Homo sapiens: one gene and its partner. The protein of the gene in region 1 interacts with the protein of each later gene in a pairwise test. Each region holds a gene or a part of one and is shown on either strand. Other genes may lie near its edges.

Region 1 (2,760 bases):
CACCTCAGCCTCCCAAAGTGCTGGGATTACAGGTGTGGGCCACCATGCCCGGCCTGCTCCCCCCTTTCCTAAAGGGAAAAACAGACCTCTCAGAAATCCGCAACAGCACCCCCATGGCCCCCCAGGCCCCTGCTGGCAAAGGGGAACAAGCCGCCCACCAGGCTCCTGCAGTGCTGGCTGGGCCCGGGGCATACTCCCACCTGCACAACACCTGGGGCTGCCAGGGACAGGCTGGGATCTGTTCCTGTTGAGCGATGGGCGACTGGGCAGAGCCACTCCATATCCAGCATCCTGAGACCCTAGACCTGAAGCCAGGAGGTATCTGGGGCCTGTCTCTCCCTGCAGAAAGGATGGGTGTAAACTCGCCTGGCTGGGAGGTGACCGTACGAGACACCAGAGCATGGATGCAGAATAGACGGGACTGTGGGGGAAGACGCAGTAATGCCTGACCAGTGCCCTGGCAGATGCTCTGTAACCAGGAGCTGTGATGGCCTCCACCCAGCCCACCCCCAGCAACCACCTCCAGGATCCGCACGAAGCAGACGTTGGGCAAAGTGAACCCAGCCCCAGTTTATTAGAAAAGGTGTGAACAGAGTTGCACCGACAGGAGTAGCCCCAGCCCTCTGCCCACCCTCACCCACACCCATGCCACTCGCCCCCAAAGGGCTGTAGTGCCTCTCAGGGCGCAGCCTCCAGTGGCCTGGACAGCAGGGTCCCGGAGTGCCGGCTGCTCCCGCCCCAGCTCCCTGATAGATTTATTGCACTTGAGAAAAAGAAAGCTCTGATCCTCTGCTCCCATCCCCCCACCCTGCCCGGCCTGCGCTGTCTGGGGCTGTTCTGTGCATCTCAACCACCACCAGCACGCACCGCCTCTCCGGCACCAGGCTGCCTGCCCGGCCCTGTGCCCGGGGCCACAGGGGACCATCCCACCACCACCCAGGACGCCTGCCCTCCGCAGGGCAAGCCTGGCCCCTCCAGAACAGGCGCCTGATGTCCTTGGAGACCTCCTCCTCCTCCTGCTCCCCCTCCTCCCATTCACCCCCAGAGTCTTCCAGTGCTGGGCTCATAAATAGAAGTGCTTGAGTCACGCGCGGAGGGCCACTCCCTGTAGCTCCTGCACCCCTTGTAGTGTTGCTGTGGGGGGAGGGGGGCCCCAGAATGGCCCCCACCCCTGGCATCCTGGGCCTCAGGAAGGCTGGGGGGAAGGTGAGCAGATTCTCATGGCTCTGGCCTCAGCTCATCGCAGACCGACCGGAAAAAGGGAACTTGGGGAGGAGAGATTGGGGGAGAGACTGTCAGAGCCAGAGGCTCTCTCAGCTCCTCCCGAGTGCTGTGGGCCCCGGGCCTGGCCTCACCTAAAGTGTCACAGTGTCTCCTGCCCGGATTCCTGACTGGCTTCCAGAAGCAGCTCCTCGAGCTCCTTCTCGTTCTTGGAGCAGCTCAGTTCTGTGTGGGAGGACGGGCCAGCACCCCCGTCAGGCGGGTGGGGCAAATACAACCTGTCCCCAGCCCGGCCCCAGCCAGACCCTCAGGGCCTGCAGAGTGCCCAGAGACCGCTGAGATGGTCAGGCTCAAGGCAGCACACCTTACATGCCCCCCCACCCCAGGAAGAGCTCCCAGGACCCAAGGGAAGCAGGGTGGAGATGAGAACTAAGCCCCACTTTGCTGGCCCCTGCGAGAACCATTTTAAAGAGGGGGAAACTGAGGTCCACAACAGGCAGGGGCTTGCCTGGGGTCACATACAGCACCCAGGGCCCCTCAACACCTGCCCTAGGGCCCCTCTCACCGTGCTCCAGGCCGCAGCTGCCCCCCTTGACCTCAGGCCCCGGGGGCGGCTCAGGGGGCAGTGCCAGGGCGAACTCGGGCTTCAGGCCGTTGGGCAGTGGTGGCCCTGACCGAGGCGGCTCCGGTGGTGGCTGAGGCTCAGAGGACCCTGTGTCCCGGGTGTCAATGGCCCCGGCTGGTGGTAGGGAAGGTGAGGCGGGTGGGGAGGGAGGGGGTGGGGGAGAGGGAGGGGTGGGGGACGCAGGGGGCTCTGCCCTCTCGGGCGGGCTCTCCACCCGGGTCACCACAAACACCTTGTGGCCCCGGCCCGGGCTGGACACGGAAATCCGCTGCTCGGTGGGTGTGGAGGGGCTGCCTGGGGGACTCCTGTCCCCAGGGCCCAGGGAGTCCGTGGGGGGCACCAGGGCAGGACAGGGGGTCTCGTCCCTCTCCCCTTCCTCTTCCTCCTCTTCCTCCCCATCCGAGTCCGAGTCTGAGTCTGAGTCCGGGCTGGGTGCGGGGCTGGGGGCCCCGTTCTGCACCCCAGCGGCGGGCTCGTCGTCGGGCTGGGGCTCGGTGGCGGTGGTCTCAGGCATGGAGGCCGACAGCTGTGGCGGCTGCTCCTTCTCCTCCCTCTCCCGCGCCAGCACCAAGTTGCGCTTGCAGCCGTTCTGGATCTCGGCCAGCAGCGCCTTCTGCGTCTCGATGAAGCTCTTCACCTGTGGCGGGAGCGCCTGGCTAGGGCTCTCAGGCCGGCCCCACCACCCGGCCTTCCGCCCGCCCCAGGGCTGCAGGACCGTCCCCTGCTCACCGCCTCTTTCTTGGGTTCACGGTCGAGGTCCAGGCGCAGCAGTGAGTGGTTCACCTTGAGGGCCAACGACAGTGCCATGAGCCCGCCTGTCTTGATCTCGTTCTCCCGAAGGTCCAGTCTCAGGAGGCGGGGGCTCTCAGCGATGAACTCCGCCACCGCCACCGCGCCTGGGGGGGCACCGCAGG
Region 2 (3,669 bases), on another chromosome or scaffold:
CCACGGTATCAACTTTAGAAAACACATTTGAAGACTATAACACCAATTATGTTTCTGAGGATGCATTTGACATGCCAACTCTCATTCACAAAAATACATTGTTAGATTTTTGTTGAACTGCCCCACACAGCACACTAATATGGGGTGTAACACACATACTTGTAACTCCAAGCTGCTTTCAGGAGCTACTCAACTCAATGAGATTGCCTTTGCAGTTAGGGAAGCAACTACTGAACTTATGTATGAAAGAAAAGAACTGTATTCCCTGCATAACAAGAGATTATTTTGGAGACAGTTGATAAAAACCATACATCCTTTTTACTGTTAAGTCATAAAGAGGTGTCAAAATTAAAAGCAAAAATTACAGGGTAAGACTTAGGAAAACTACTAGGGGTGTCATGGGAAGTGAAAATGGGACTAGGCGCAGGGCAATATGAATTAATGAATGTGGGAAGGACAAGGATGGGGAGAACAGTAAGCATGTGCTGAAGATACTAAGGGAGAGGATCTGGTGAAAAATTTGTTGTTAGACAAGCTCCTAGGTAAAGAAACAATGGGATAAGATTTCTCAACCCCACTATGTGCTTAAGAGTCATCCTGGCCATTGGTGCTGTCTCTGTTATCCTCTCCTTCCTCAGCATCTTTTTCATTATTCTTGATCAAATGAAGCTGGTTGTCCCCCTGATCTTCATTATCATCATCATCCAGTGGGTCCCCCTCCTCAGCAGAGTCTTCTGCACCCCCCTCAGACTCCATCTTTACATGAGTCTCATCTTTCTTCATGGAGCTACTGCTCTGCTCCTCTTCTGACTTAGCATTTTTCACCTCTACCTCTTGTTTGCTCTGTTCCTTTTCAATTTTTTCCAGGTTTTCCAGGAGAGAATCCACTTTCTGTTTTATCTGGGTCAACTCCTGCTTAATGGCCTGAAGGTCATCTCCTTTCAGCTTTCCAGACTTGGAAGATCCCCGCTTTCCACTCTTAGAATTGAAGCCACTTTTGCCCCTTCGTGAGGTGTTTCCTGATATGCGCTGGCGTTTCGAGGGCACTACAGCCAGAGCAATGGGAGGAGGAGGAGGTACACGTGCTGGGAAACTGTACATCCCATCATAATAATCCCGTTGAAAGCCATAGTCCAAGTCAAAAGAGGAGCCGTACATCTCCGCTGCGGATCGTTTCACACCTGCGTTTCCTCGGTTCACTTTTGGCTCTGCAGCCAGGTTAATAACTGCAACCTGGCTAGCAATCATTCTGCCATCCTCTCCTGCTACAGCAGCCCGGGCATTTTTCTCCTTATCATATTGAACGAAGGCAAAGCCCTTATGAACAGAGCAGCCCGCAATTTTGCCATACTTGGAAAAGATCGCCTCCACATCAGATTTCTTGACAACAAGAGTGTTGAGATTCCCAATGAACACACGGGAGTTCACGGAGTGAGGATCCATCTTGTTGGTAACGTTGCTGGCCATTGTGTTGGATGATAAGGTTTCTCAAAAAGCCAAAAACAGGAGGCGGGAGGGAGAAGAGATTCGATTCTAAGTCTCCTACTGCCGGGTTCTACGGGGAGAAACTGACTGCGGCTCGAGGCCAGAAATGCAGCCAAAACAGCTCAGTCTTCGTCTCTTCACAAAATGGCTGCCAACAAGAATTCTGAAATGATGTAAAGAAAAGCACAACAACATTTTTGAAATCACGACAAAATTGCATTTAGAAAAAAAAATCAAAGCTTCAAAGTGTTCATATGAAAAAAAGAAAAAAAGACATGATATAGTTCTATGCCATCGTAGGCTGCACTGTCACCGTTCTAGACCGGCTGACTGTAGGTCACATGGGAGTGTCCTTACAGAAATTAGTGACTTACCAGATCTGGTTGTAGTTTAGAAGGTGCTCAGACCTCAGGAAGAGCCAAGCAGGAACTCCAGGCTTGAAGACTTTGAGTTTGTCCTGTGGGTCTTTAGAAGCTTTTATTGACCTTTCTAATCACAACTCCCACCCACGCCCCTCCACGTATCCGCTGCTAGCTTCCAATCAAAAAGCGATATCTGATTGCATTTCTGAAGCTCCACTCAGTTAATCCTGATTGGGTTTTTGACTGTCCGAAGACTAATGGATTGAACGAGATATCCATTCATATCACATATGCATAATCATTTTATGAATTAAGAAATTGACAGAGTTAGGGATAGAGTGGAAATCAAGAATTCATTCACTCAAGGCCAGGTGAGGTGGCTCACACTTGTAATCCCAGCACTTTGGGAGGCCAAGGTAGGTGGATCACCTGAGGTCAGGAGTTCAAGACCAGCCTGGCCCACATGGTGAAACCCTGTCTCTACAAAAATAGAAAAGTTAGCCAGGCACGATGGTGGCTGCCTGTAGTCCAGTTACTCATGCGGCTGAGGTGGGAGAATCCCTTGAACCCTGGAGGCTGAGTTTGCAGTGAGCCAAGATTACACCATTGCCCTCCTGACTGGGCGACAGAGGGAGATTTTGTCAAAAAAAATGCATTCATTCATGAAATCCACAAACACTGATGGAATTTTACTGCTATTTCGCCTTCAAGTCCTGATGTGAGGCAGGGAAGGGGTTGATCTGTTCCAGACATTAGACAGAAAAATAAAACCTGAAAGTAGTGTTGTGGGGAGATCTTTGGCCACATCAAAATTATAAAATTTATAAAAATATTTCTAGTTAAAATAGCTGTATAAACACAGAGGAGTCGTCCCTACAAAATAAGAATAAAGATCTCCATGTATGGAATGGTCTTGTGGGTTTTATATCACCTAAGGTAGCAGTTTCTTCACTCGTGCTGGTGGAAGAGAGGTGCCACTGAGGGCTTGAGTGGTCTCAGGGCTTAGGTTAAGTCTTCTCTGGAAGAAATTGAAATGATACCTGTAAACTTTATAAGTTTAATCAGTGAAGAAGGGAGGGGGAGAAACAAAAATAAACCAAGCTTGCAGCGCATTCAGCATTCACCATGAGGTCAGCTTGCTCTCTGACCTTCTTCCTCATGGTTGCTGGCAGCTTACTGTCCCCAAATCAAGTAGACCTTAGCTTACAGTTCCCCTTAACTACCCTGCAGACAACAATTTAAGCCTTGTAAAACATTAACTTTCTCATTTGAGATATTCTTTCAGGTTCTGCATGTCAGTGAAACTACTGATGCCAGCTGATCTGAAGGGCTCTGCAAGGCACCAACTCACCAAAGAATGCAGTTTTGACATCCTGATGACTTCATCCCTCTTACCTCTACACCAACTTTCCAGCCCCTTGCTATCCAGGATCCACTGGAAACCCTCAGTACTACTTGGGGAGATGAATTTGAGGATATCCTCCTAGCTTCTCATTTAGCCACCCTGTGATCATTAAACTGTCTGCTGCAAACACTGCTGTCTCAGAATATTGGTCAGCTACTGTGCAGCAGGCATAGGAACCTGATGGTCCTGTAATAAAATCATGTCAAAATTACAAAGAGAAGTGAGGGTAGAGGATGGGCATGGTTGAGCTGGGTGTTTTAATGGGATCCTGGGAGTTAACCAAGACTTGGTAAACATGTTGGGGGTTACTGAGGGGGTGGAGGTGGAATCTATCCAACATTTCACTGATGCCCCTTTACTTTTGATTCTTAGGACCAAGGTTGAGTCTTTCAAAACAATTTGTATAATCCTCCTTAT

What was found. The genes of interacting proteins can lie anywhere in the genome.
Region 2: the proteins of PPP1R37 (region 1) and HNRNPCL2 interact in binary tests that used the Homo sapiens proteins (3 or more experiments, as listed by UniProt).

What each region holds. Positions count from the first base shown.
Region 1 is NC_000019.10:45,145,076-45,147,835, reverse strand, and holds the end of PPP1R37 (protein phosphatase 1 regulatory subunit 37), read right to left. Parts: intron 2,743-2,760; coding exon 2,576-2,742; intron 2,484-2,575; coding exon 1,787-2,483; intron 1,447-1,786; coding exon 1,364-1,446; 3' UTR 1,356-1,363; intron 1,266-1,355; 3' UTR 551-1,265; downstream 1-550. UniProt on the Homo sapiens protein: Inhibits phosphatase activity of protein phosphatase 1 (PP1) complexes.
Region 2 is NC_000001.11:13,114,934-13,118,602, forward strand, and holds HNRNPCL2 (heterogeneous nuclear ribonucleoprotein C-like 2), read right to left. Parts: upstream 1,922-3,669; 5' UTR 1,860-1,921; intron 1,649-1,859; 5' UTR 1,468-1,648; coding exon 586-1,467; 3' UTR 555-585; downstream 1-554.